3 linked regions of the Homo sapiens genome follow. The protein of the gene in region 3 purifies or fractionates together with the protein of the main gene of each other region. This does not show direct contact. Each region holds a gene or a part of one and is shown on either strand. Other genes may lie near its edges.

What was found.
Region 1: the proteins of NCOA4 (region 3) and SLC2A12 purify together in Homo sapiens (co-immunoprecipitation; one large-scale study listed by IntAct). This does not show direct contact.
Region 2: the proteins of NCOA4 (region 3) and P2RY10 purify together in Homo sapiens (co-immunoprecipitation; one large-scale study listed by IntAct). This does not show direct contact.

Annotation. Positions count from the first base shown.
Region 1 is NC_000006.12:134,000,625-134,004,124, forward strand, and holds part of SLC2A12 (solute carrier family 2, facilitated glucose transporter member 12), read right to left. Parts: intron 1,506-3,500; coding exon 1,373-1,505; intron 1-1,372. UniProt on the Homo sapiens protein: Insulin-independent facilitative glucose transporter.
Region 2 is NC_000023.11:78,948,391-78,951,890, forward strand, and holds part of P2RY10 (putative P2Y purinoceptor 10), read left to right. Parts: intron 1-3,500. UniProt on the Homo sapiens protein: Putative receptor for purines coupled to G-proteins.
Region 3 is NC_000010.11:46,012,716-46,018,250, forward strand, and holds part of NCOA4 (nuclear receptor coactivator 4), read right to left. Parts: intron 3,980-5,535; coding exon of another isoform or gene 3,966-3,979; coding exon 3,825-3,965; intron 2,552-3,824; coding exon 2,411-2,551; intron 2,228-2,410; coding exon 2,139-2,227; intron 1,838-2,138; coding exon 1,729-1,837; intron 925-1,728; coding exon 835-924; intron 312-834; coding exon 168-311; intron 1-167. UniProt on the Homo sapiens protein: Cargo receptor for the autophagic turnover of the iron-binding ferritin complex, playing a central role in iron homeostasis. Acts as an adapter for delivery of ferritin to lysosomes and autophagic degradation of ferritin, a process named ferritinophagy.

The DNA.
Region 1 (3,500 bases), on a different chromosome or scaffold from region 3:
GAAGAGTAACAAGTTCTGCTTCATTCTTAGCCCCTATGTCTCACCTCTTCCCCCAGGACATGGTTTTGGCAATTAGAGCTACTAAAAAAGGAAAGGGAATTTTCTGCCACTCACTTCTAAATTAAATGTTTCACTTCTAAGTTAAATTGTTTAAACAATCTCTCCTTGTGAAATTTTTTAAACCAGTTTTCTAAAAGCCTATTCATATAAGAAACTTATCTTTCTTAAAATTACCTTAAATGTGCAATATTTAGAACAACGGTAGATGGTTAAGCCTGAGAGTTTTTCTGCTAATCTTAGCCTTAGCAAGTGTTTAGGGCACAGAGAAGGAGCTCTAAGTCTGATAGAGATGGAAAGGCTGAGACCCAAGTTCCTAGCCCAGTGTGAACATGGTATATCTACACTTCCGGGACCCACCCCAAACCCCAAACAAAGAAAACCTGTTGGGGGGAGCTAGAGAGGCGGAAGAAGTTCTGAGATGGTGATTGAGTAGAGCTTTAAAATGTTCACCCGTTGGTTGGGGACTGGGTGGGGGAAGCATTGGGGGGTGGTGGGGGATAAAAGACTACAAATTGAGTTCAATGTATACTGCTCCGGTGATGGGTGCACCAAAATCTCACGATCGCCACTAAAGAACTTACTCTGTAACCAAATATCACCTGTTCCCCAAAAACCTATGGAAATAAACTGTTTTTTAAATGAGATAGTTTTAATCAGTAGCACAGAAGATTCACATCCTCTGTACAACAAAATTAGTTTCAGGAAAAAATCAGGTAAAACAACAATAGTAACAGTTTCTTTTTCCGAAAAGAAATGCAGACAGTGAAAATATTAAACTTTGTTCTAGTAAAAATTATTACATTACAAAAAAGGAAAATATGGTTTAATGCTTTTTAATTACAATGATGTATTTTTGTTTTTGTTTCGTATAAAAGGAAAAAACTTGTAACCTTGTACGTACATATTGGTTGGTCATAGTAATGAATAATAGCATTACAGTTTGATGATAATTATAAAAGGCTAACGTTAAAAAACATTCCAATTGTAAAGATTTTATTCAAATTCAGTACAATATTTCATTGATAAGTGAAAATTTGCACTTGCCAATCAAATACATTCACTTTGTAGTTTGAAAAAAAAAAAAAAAGCTTCATTCATTGGGAAGAAATGGTTATTCTTCCTTAGCTGAATCACCCAAATTAAAGACAAAGCAGGGAAATTGGAATTATGCACTGAGACATAGTCTTACGCTAAAGGGAATGTCCTAATCTAATAATATCTAATAATTTCAGATATTATTCCTTTGCTGTATATAAAAGCTGCACTTTTGACCAAAGAGTATTGTTCAGAAACCAATGCATGTAATACTTACACTTTTGCTAGCTCCATTGATATTTGTTCCAAAGAGCATCCCTTTGTCTCAGGTATAAACATAACAACAAAAAGCAGGGATGCTAGACTCATGATTGTATATATAAAGCACACCCATGGCAGGCCAATAAGATCTATAAAGGACAAAAGAAATTGATTAGAAATGTGTTTTGTGTAGCTTTGATCCCATTTGTGAACAGCCACTTAGGGCATACATAGCACCATATGTATTTTCAAACATGCCAGCAGTATCCAGGAAAATAGAAATCACAAATTTAAAATGTAGCCAGCTCTGAAGGTGTTACTTTTACAGACTACCTTAGTTTTCTCTGTTGAAGAAAATAGCAGTCTTGTAACTATCACAATTTACACCCAATGTCATCTTCTTGGTGGGCATGTCTTTCTGTTTCAAAATGGCAATGTGTCTTTATTAATATAAAAAAGCACATGCAAAAAAGGAACCTCAAATAACATGGAAACATATGATGTAGAAGGTAAAATCTCTCTTCTCCCTCTCCACAGTTCCCCTCTTGGGAATCGCCATGGTAGCAGTTTAGTTTCTGTTCGGTGGACAATTTTTTCCCCCTCTTGCTATCATTCCCAATGGTGGACATTTTTAATGACATTTGTACAGATGGATTTTTCTTGGAATGAGCTCACCCTTCTTTGCTCTGATGTGAATAAATCATTTCATGCTGGCAATATTTCATCATTTTTAATAGCTTGCAGTGTATTTGTAATGTTTCTTCCTGGGTTCAGAGAAAAAAGTGATCATGGATCCAGTAAAAGCCATCAACTTGCCAAGATGCATCACAAGAAGCAGGATCCTCAAGATTCTGATGACTCTCATCTGCAAACCTAGTTTTTCCTCTGACCGCTTCCAGCCAAAGATACAGTCCCTTTGTAGTCATGGACCAAGTCAAGGCACATTCAGTGGTCAGCAGTGGCCCCCACAGTGCACTTGAGGCTGCCATTTGCATTGTGGCGGCCCCTGACTCAGCAGCAGAATGTCTAGTGTGGCAAGGAGTAGTCAACTACGAACAACAAGATTTTACAAATAGCCTTTAACAGCTGCAGCCACAAACCACAGTTGGTCAGGCAGGAAAACTGACTGAGCACTTGTGTACTGAGGCAGTGTTTGTAAATGCAGCATGAAAGAATCGAAGCATAGTAACTACTTGTCGGTGAGTTGTGCTGAGGTTGGGAGAAGCAGGAAGGAGGAACCGCACTGCAGTTCTTTTGGCAATTTTAATTAAACTCCTGTCTCTCTCTGCTTTTCTAGCTGGCACAGGGTATGGCCCAACTGATTGCTTAATAAAGTCCTTGTAGAATTGGGTGTCCTTCCTTCTCTGGAGCTTAAAACCAGAATATAGAAATTGTCAAAACCCTAAAGGCTGTCTCATCAAATTGTCCCCAGTTTTGTTTGAGCACTTTGAGTAACAGGGAGCTCACCATTTCACGAAGCCTCTTACTGCCCTGTGAAATAGTTGCGTCTGCTAAAAAGTTATTCCTTGCTTAGATCCTAAATCTGCCTTTCAGAGGCTGTGCTTTGTCCTGTGGAAGGACACACAGTGAATCAGCTCTCCCCACCCCTTCTCCGTGACAGCCATTCAAATATTTGAATGCACCTCAGCCCTCCTCTGAGAATCCCCTTGTCCAAGTCAAACATCCTGAGCTCTTCAACCATTCTTCCCACAGCATAGGTTACTGCCCTCGCCATTCAGGTTGCCCTCCTTCAGCGAACACACTGCAATTTTTAAATGGCCCTCTCGAGATGTTTTACTCAGAGCTGAATGCAATGCTACAATTGTGTCATGATCACTGCAGAGTACATTTGTCTATCTGGAACAGTCTGCTTTTATTGATACAGCTGAAATTGCATAAAAAATGTTGGTGTTTAAGGGCTTACTGCCAAGTAGAACCTCACGTCTTTTAGATCCCTGTGTCCTACACTTGGAAAATTTATTTTTGAAAATAAGTAGGAAATGTCAAGCATTCCAATTAAATGTCATCTAAAGGTTTTAGAGCATTCTAGGCTTTTTGTTTTTAAGTGGATCTGTTTTCCTACATTTGTTCTAAAAGCCCATACGGAACTTCTAAAGCTTCACTAGCTCCTCCAGTGTATTAGC
Region 2 (3,500 bases), on a different chromosome or scaffold from region 3:
TGAACTCACATTTATTTAATACTTATTGGGTATCAGACATGAAAATAGGTACTTTTACACACATTTTCTTTTTTTCATTTCTATTTCAATATTTTTTGAACTACAAGTGTTTTTTTCTGTTGCATGGGTAAATTATATAGCAGTAAATTCTGAGATTTTTAGTGCACCCACCACCTCAGTAGTGCACGTTGTACCTAATGTGTAATATTTTTATGCCTAGCCTGTCTCACCCACCCTCTTCTGAGTCTCTAGATTCCATTATATCACTCTGTATACCTTTGCATAATCATAGCTTATCTGTCACTTATAAGTGAGAACATCTATTTTTTTTATTTTTCACTCCTGTGTTACTTTACTTAGAATAGTGGACTCCACCTCCATCCAAGTTACTGCAAAAATACATTATTGCGATCCTTTTTATGGCTGAGGAGTATTACATAGTGTATATACACCACATTTACTTTATCCACTCGTTAGTCAATTGGCACATAGATTCATTCCACATCTTTGCAATTGTGATTAGTAGGATTGCTGTATCAAATGGTAGATTTACTTGTAGCTCTTTAAGGAATCTCCATACTGTTTTCTATAGAAGTTGTACTAATTTACATTTCTACCAGCAGTGTAGAAGCTTTCTCTTTTATCCACATATCTACCAGCATCTATTTTTTTTTCACTTTTTAATAATAGCCATTCTTGCAGTAACGTGCTATTTTATTCTGGTTTTAATTTGCATTTCTCTGACGATTAGTGATGTGGAGCATTTTTTCGTGTTTGTTGGCCATTTGTATATCTTCTTTTGAGGAATCTCTATTTATGTCCTTTGCCCACTCTATAATGGGATTATTTCTCTTTCTATTGCTGACTTGTTTGAGTTCCTTGTAGATTCTAGTTTCTAGTCCTTTGTCAGATGCATAGTCTGCAAATATTTTCTCTCATTCTGTGGGTTGTCTGTTTACTCGGATTATTATTTTCAGACACATTTTTCTTTAATGCTCAAAACAAATTATGTGGCAGGAACCATTCTAATTTTACAAAAGAGGAAACTGAAGCCTGGTGATATGAAGTGAATTGTTTCAGGCCAGAGAACCGACAATTGAGACATGATATGATACCAGGTCTTCCAAAGAACATGATTATTTCCACCCATAAAATGCTGCCACAGCTGCAAAAATGATATCTAATTAGGCCGCCTTCCTAAATGATTGAAAGTCCAATACATATTCCTGCATGAAAGTTCAAATTCAAACTTTAAGTTGTTGTTTTGTTAATGGTCTAATTGCTTTAATTCATTTTAAGGATAAAAATAATTTTCACTTCCTCTAACAGAAGAAAATGTCTGTACTTGCAGAATGTGTCCAAATTTGTGTGTATCTCATGTCAACCAGGCTTATTTGGAGTTGATGTAGATTTATTCAGGAAACAGCAGAGTTTCCAATTCTAGCTGCTACTCTTTGGTTCTGGTTGTAAGCGGCTGAATGAAGAACACCGGGGTCATGGAGATCAGATTGGCTTGGATAATTCATGTGAAATTTAGTGGTTAAAAAATAAAAGAAAAAGGTAAGATGAGGCAAAGCAAGTTAAGTTCCCAGATGACATGTAAAAGTTATCCTCTAGAGAGTGGGAGGGGCCCCCATCAGCAACTTGTTTTCTCTGTTTAATTTTTTCTTCCCCTCCCAGGATGACAAGCCCACAGACAGGCTTCAGCATCAAATAAAATGGAGAAGTAAATTTGATAAACATGTTTACTTAGTGGTGCCAGTGACTTACTGATGAGTGGTGAAAAGACAGGGAAGATTGAGAGTGAAGATTTATGGAGTTGGTACCAGCTGCATAAATGGTGGCAGTGTCAATGGTGATGATATTAGTTAGGAGCAGGGTTCAGAGGGGGAATTCTCATGAAATCATACCAAATGAGAGCTAGAAGGGAGTTAAAGGTCATCTAGTTCAAATCATATTATTTTAATAATGAGGAAATGAAACTCACAGAAGGGAAAGAGCGTATCAGAGCAGCACAAAGAGTATATAAAATTACTGAAATCCAAGTATCTTAGCTACAAATCCAGTACACCTTTCTATATATTATACTGCTTTTGAGTCTTCTGTATCCTACAGCAAGTCTTGTCCTATTCAGATCACTCCTGTTGTAAAGAAATTGTTCCATTACTTCTATCTACAGATTTGTTATAATTTGAATTCATAAGCACAATTCCATAAAGAACGTTGGTTTTGATATAATCCTATCCTGACACCTGGTGGGCAGCAATTTGCCATATATGCATAGTGCATATGCATAAAACTGCTAGAACTAGAACCGAAAACAATAGCTTTTTTATCTCTGAGGAACAGTCTTATCCACAGAAATACCACTTTAAAATATGTTTCTGTCCATATAATAAGTTATTCAGCTAAAAATAACTTTAGCTTTCTGGGCTTATGAAAAGCCTTATTAAAGCTGAAATCATAACTCTGACTGCAGAAAGTCACTTACTCCTGCTGAGACTCCATTTTCTAATCTGTAAAGGAGTATAATAGTAATTAACTCAGAATTCTTACAAAGATTAGAGGTAACGTGAATAGCACTTAGCTAGTTACTGACAGGATGTGGAAATTTCCTCACTGGGACTTAGGAAACTAATATAAATTCTGATGCCATAATAATATAAGCTCAGTTTGGCTGTAACTTTGTGAAAACCACAACGTTGAGCTAGTTGGTTGGGAAGAGCAGCTGCTTTTGGGTAGATGGTATTAGTATCTAGTAAGATTTTGGGCTCAGCTCCAATGAATCATATTTAAAGACCTTCCATACCTTTGTATTCTGAGAAAACATTTAGTTGTTTCCACAAAATAAAGTTTTCAGTGATCAAATTCCTAATTAAGTTTAAGGGATTCCTGTTGGATTTCAAAACGAAAGCTGGATTGCCTTCTTTAAAGCTCTTAGGTGTTCAGATTTCTTAGACTAAAACCTTATTATTCTTGCTTTGACCACATTTTCTTCAGTAGCAGAAAGGAGAAAGATTATGGCTGTTGTTTAGGAGAGTGTTTCATGGGAGAGACTTTACAAGTAAAAATGCCTAATGCTCTGCTAATATGTGCCTATGCTCTGTAGTCTTACCTTCTCACAGTGCAGCCTATAAATTCAGTAGGTGTTCGAAGAAGAGGGGAGTGAGAGTAGGGTTGCCCGATGTAAGGAAAAAATGGGAGTTGAGATGCGATATTGAGACAGAAGTAAAATATTGACCTCTGAGTTGGGCTCCAGGTAAAAAAGGAATATGATGGAGTTTTAGTCATAACTTTGTGCGTGCCATTTTTATTATCAGGAACATCTTTAGAGCCATACTTTGATTTTTGTTTTTTTGCCCATATTTTCTTCAACTTTTATTTTAAGTTTAGGGGTACATGTGCAGGATGTGCAGGGTTGTGACATAGGTAAATGTGTGTCATGGTCGTTTGCTGCAAAGATCATCCCATCACCTAGTTATTAAGCCCAGCATCCATTA
Region 3 (5,535 bases):
GATAAAGAGTTCCTTATTTTCTAAACTTTCTATGATGAAGAGACTATTAATAAATATGTTTCCAGACTGCAACCAAAAAGTTAACAATGACACATAGTACTACTGATTAGTAACTAACTCCACCTACTGCTGTGTCTACTGTAGAAACAATAAAAGCAGCAACAGACCTGACTGTTCTCCAAGGTCTGCTTTTGGGTAAGCCAGTCCTGGGGGTCGGTGCTGGGTATGTAAGGAGCTTGATAACCACTGGCAGGTTTGCTTCCAAGGAGCCATTCGCTGAAAGGGACAGCTACAATACCGGATGCTGACTTCTGTTAATCACAAAACAAGGAATGTCAAATGCAGTAGAAAGTTCACCAGAAAAAGAGAAGAGCCACTCTCTAATCTTGGCTTGCCACTGACCCTGGGCAAATCATGTGCCTTCCAAGAGCCTCAATTTTCACAATTATAAAACAAGAGACACACAGCTGATCTCTAGGGCTCTTCTCAACTAAAACATATAGAAACCTTTATTCACATTGCCATTCCTTTAGAAATAAATCATCTCTACAAATTATAAAGAGGATCGCTCACAGAGAACCAGTATCAGTAAGACAGCTAATGATAATTTCCTGTGAACTGATTGATAATTACTTTTTCTGTTAATCAGCCCCGACAAGACATCTAAATTTCTATTTGGCATTAGGTCTCAAGGGAAGCATTCAATTTCATAAACTAACTCATTGCCACTGGTGCCTTTTTACAAATAGTAGCATTTTTTTAATGCTATATAAAACCCAAAGGAAGTATAAGCCAAGTAATGACTCAATTACCAAAAACAAAATGATATTTTACCTGCTCTGGCATGGAGATACAGCCTCTCTTCTCCAGGAAGGGCCCAATATTTGCTGAACTAGCATGAGCCATCAAGTGCTCAGGAATTTGCTACAAAATAGAGATAATTTAATCATGTTATTTATGCTATGCTGCCAAAAAAGTGAAATTATAATTCCAAATTTCAAAAATGTTAAAGCATTACCATTTCATTAGAAATACTGTTCACACTAAATTCCATGACTTACAAAGTAGTTATCAAATTTGAGAATACTCTACCACATAACTATTATATAAAAAATCTTTACCAGAATTGGTTGTATTACCACTTTTAACAAGACCCAAACGTTTCGTTCTTTATTAAAAACTATTCAAGCCATAAATTTTACAAAAAATATTTCAAAAGTATTTAGAGAGATACATGAGGCATTCCAAAGAGTATCACTGAGTCTGTACTACATTCCAAGAACTACCAACCTAGGCAACTTAATCAGAATATGAATTTTTTTTTTTTTAGGCGGAGTCTCACTGTTTGTCGCCCAGGTTGGAATGCAGTGGCACGATCTCAGGTCACTGCAACCTCCGCCTCCCAGCTTGAAGCGATCCTCCTGCCTCAGCCTTCCAAGTAGCTGGGATTATAGGCGCCCAGCTAATTTTTTTGTATTTTTAATAGAGATGGGTTTTCACCATGTTGGCCAGGCTGGTCTTGAACTTCTGACCTCAAGTGATCCGCCCTCCTCGGCCTCCCAAAGTGCTAGGATTACAGGCGTGAGCCACCACGCCCAGCTGAGAACATGAAATTTTTGAAGCTAATCAAATTCTCAAGAAAGTCACTATTCATAGCAATTTTTTTTAAGACCAGCTGTGAGGCCACAGATATGAGAAGTGCCCAGTGAAGCATATGAGATTACTCACAATGGTTTTGAGAGACCCAAATGTGGTGATGGTCTGGCGCAGAGTAATTGTGTCAGCTTCAAAGAGCAGGACAGTTGAATCTTCAGGCTTAAGGGTCAAACTGCCCAGTCTGGGGAAAAAAAAACAAAATTGGCTATTTTTAAGGAATATCTGTTTCATCAACTTCATCTAAAACAAAAGCCAAATTGTGAGTAATTTTAAATGATTACACTTCTCTAAGAAACTCAACCAAAGATAGATGGCTTATTCATGTATCAGCAAGTATAATATTAAATACATGAAGCAGAATGATCTTATCCTAGCAACACAGAAGTTAAATATAACACAAGCAATGAGTTACAAAATCGACTTTCTTTTAGTATACCAAAGTTCAAGAGTCAAAAGTTAAAATACGCAAAAAGGGTCATTACCTCTCCAGGCACACAGAGACTTGATTGGCTAGATCTTTGTTTTGGGTACACTCCAGTTGATGAGTAAGACAATTGAACTGGCCCAATAACTAAAAGAAAAATGAAACCAACTAGCCACAATGACACCAAAAGCACCAGATATACTCAAGTTACCAAACAGCACTTGAGATTAAACTTCTATCTGATCTATATTAACACTGCATTACAAGGAAGATACTCTCTGGCAACCAGAAGCCATGCTCAAACCAATTCTAGCCATGCAGTCACCTTACCGAGTAGAGCTGCTGAGCCTGCTGTTGAAGTGTCTCCTCTTTAAGCTGATAAATAAGGTCCACCTGTTCATACAGCCATACCTCACGGCTTCTAAGACATTCCAGGTGACGGCTTATGCAACTGTGAATCTGAGCTTTGACCTAGGAAACACATACATGTTAGCTTCCTAGTGTTAATCCCAAAGAATGATGTTTCCCAAAGAATAGTGAGTTTCTAAAACTTTTTTTGGGGGGGTGGGGTTGGGGGGACCACAAATCCTTTTAATTATCCAATGACATCTATGAAGTATCTCCCCAGAAAAAATGTATATTTTCAAGATTTTACCTATAATTTCAGGGTTTAGTGTTCCAAAGCCCACCCAAGGACCCACTAAAGCCCTATGGACCCCAATTTAAGAATCCTAGCCATAAAGGCATACCTAAACTCTAAAATCCTTCTTCAATACCCAGCCTTCTAAGAGGATTAGGTTTAATTTGGGTGTCCTAATCAAGAGAAAATACAAGAATGTACCAGGAAATACTGACCCCCTCAGTTTTCCACATAATTTAAAAACCTACGGTTTTACAAGTTTATCAGCAGAATAAAGACAGAGTATTAACTTAATAGCTAGCCCCTTATCTCTTTTCTCACCCCACAGAATGAGCGGTCCATTTACAGGAGGCCAATTTAGTAAAGAGATGTGCCACCACATGTCAACAGCTAAAAGACCATTAGGGTAGACAATTTAAGTAAAATTATAAACTAATATTTCTGGAAGCATAAACAGTGATTCAAACAGGGCTAAATATAAAAATCCCAAGGGAAAAAGTCAAAACAGGCCATAAATTATCCGTGACAATATACATAAGAAACTGTATTTTAAAACACATTTTTTTCTGTTTAATAAAGTTGTGTTTCAAAGTCATGTAATACTTGGTCTAACACACACAACAACAAAATACTACTGGAACCAACAACAGATTTCACTCTGGCTTGCCCTAACAGATAGTCATTTACAGAACAATGCCATTAACCAGCTAAAAGATGATGGGGAGGATGCTCAAGTGCATCCTTCATGCAATCAAGAGGATGCAGCTGAGAGGATACTGCTCACTCATTTCATATTTTTACTGGTCACAGTGCCTGAGGAATCACACAGAGGAGTAATCAAAAATCTAAGTAGTTAGTAATCTAAGTAAGCTGAATAGAATTTTCTAGAATGGCACAGGGTTTTCCAGACTCTTCTAGCATCTGCCTTATTTCCCCTTGGGATGAAAGGCACCAGTATATCAGGCAACTGACGGGGACCAAGTAGACCACGCAAGGCATGGGGTGAAATTTTTTGCTGGCACGGAGAGACCAAGTCCTTGGCCATGCTCAAATCAGCCCTGTGTCAAGAGTCCAGACAACAGAAGAGAAAAGCACATGTCACACCTCTCGCAAGTTATCTTTAATTTGCTGTTCAGCCCGGAGAACTCCACCAATAGCAAGCTCCAAGTCCCTCCGTGCATCACTACACCTCAAAAGGGGTTCTCTATTACTGGAGCTGCCACTCTGGTCTTGGAAGGTATTCATTCTCCTCACTGCTCCTTTAAAAGAAAAAAATATATATAAATAGCACCATAATTACAACCAAAAACCACCTTTGAATCATCCCTCAAATGATCATTCCAGCCAACTCCCATTACTAACTACTTAGATTACTTTCCAACACCAAACCTAGCACATAAGATACTCTTAATAAATATTGTCTCCTCCCTTCCCTCTACCACTGTTCCTGCCATAAAACTCTATAATCTACTTTAGTGACACTTTACATGTGAATAGCTATTTCTGGAAAAATACACTAATTGTCCTGAATCAAAGAGCATACAGTGTCCTGAAAAGTTAAAAGAACATTAGAATATCATTTTCTATTTATAACACACATATAGTCATATGAGGCATGTGTTCCTCTTTGTAGATTTAGAGATGAAGACTAAAAGGTACAGAAGGATCTTTGATTACTTTCAAAATAAGCTGCAAACAATCAAGTTTAGAACACTTTGTTTAGAAGACGGAATTTTTAATTTCCCCCTTTTAGGTAGAACTTTTTTTTTTATTTAGGAAGAACTTAAGAATGACTTCACAGCTAGGAAGTTCTCAAAAATATAACATAGGGCCGGGCACGGTGGCTCACACCTGTAATTCTAGTACTTTGGGAGGCCAAGGTGGGTGGATCACTTGATTCCAGGAGTTCGGGACCAGCCTGGGCAAAATAGCCAGACCCCGTCTCTACAAAATATAAAAATTAGCCACATGTGGTGGTGTGCATCTGTAGTCCCAGCTACTTGGCAGGCTGAGATGGGAAGATCACCTGAGCCCAGGAGTTCGCAGCTGCAGTGAGCCGTGATTGCACCTGCACTCCACCCTGGGTAAGAGGGTGAAACTCTGTCTCAAAACAACAACAAAAAAGAATATAACAGATATAGAGATACATGTTTTATATAGAGAGAATATATGTAATATATAATATATAAAAGAATGTGCATTATATGTAACAGATTATATGTGACAAAATGATTTCATGATTCTCATATAAAGGAGACACAGAAATTGGTGTGGGTAAATACAGAGTTCTCTAAGAAGCTTGGGTTTAGGAGCGAAAGGAAACACAAATGGGAAGAACAGCATATAATGATAAAATGAGACTGTAACACATGAGTGTCAGTAAAGCCATAACGTAAAACTTGACAAAAGCTACTGCAAGAACAATGACATGATTTTTAAACACTGAGAAAATGACAGCAGTGATTACTAGAGCTCAGAATAGGTTCACTAAGCCTTGTGATACCAGTTATTTCCTTTTGGATTGTTTTACTAAACTGGCAAGTCAAGGTAATGCTGTAGACACAAAGGGATGACAGAAGACTTGTGGCAAGACTATATGTTATCACTGTGGAAAAAGTGAATATTAGCTAAAGAGAAGCACAATTAAACTGAATAATAAGATTATTTTTTACAAAATACTCAAAGGATGACAGACTAAGGCCAGTTTGTAAAGTTTTGAGAGGCACATCCCTGTTTTTCCTAATTACCTGTATGAAAACACACAAGACAAACATTAAAGCTGGAGGTAACATGGGGCTGTGACAGAAACAGATCC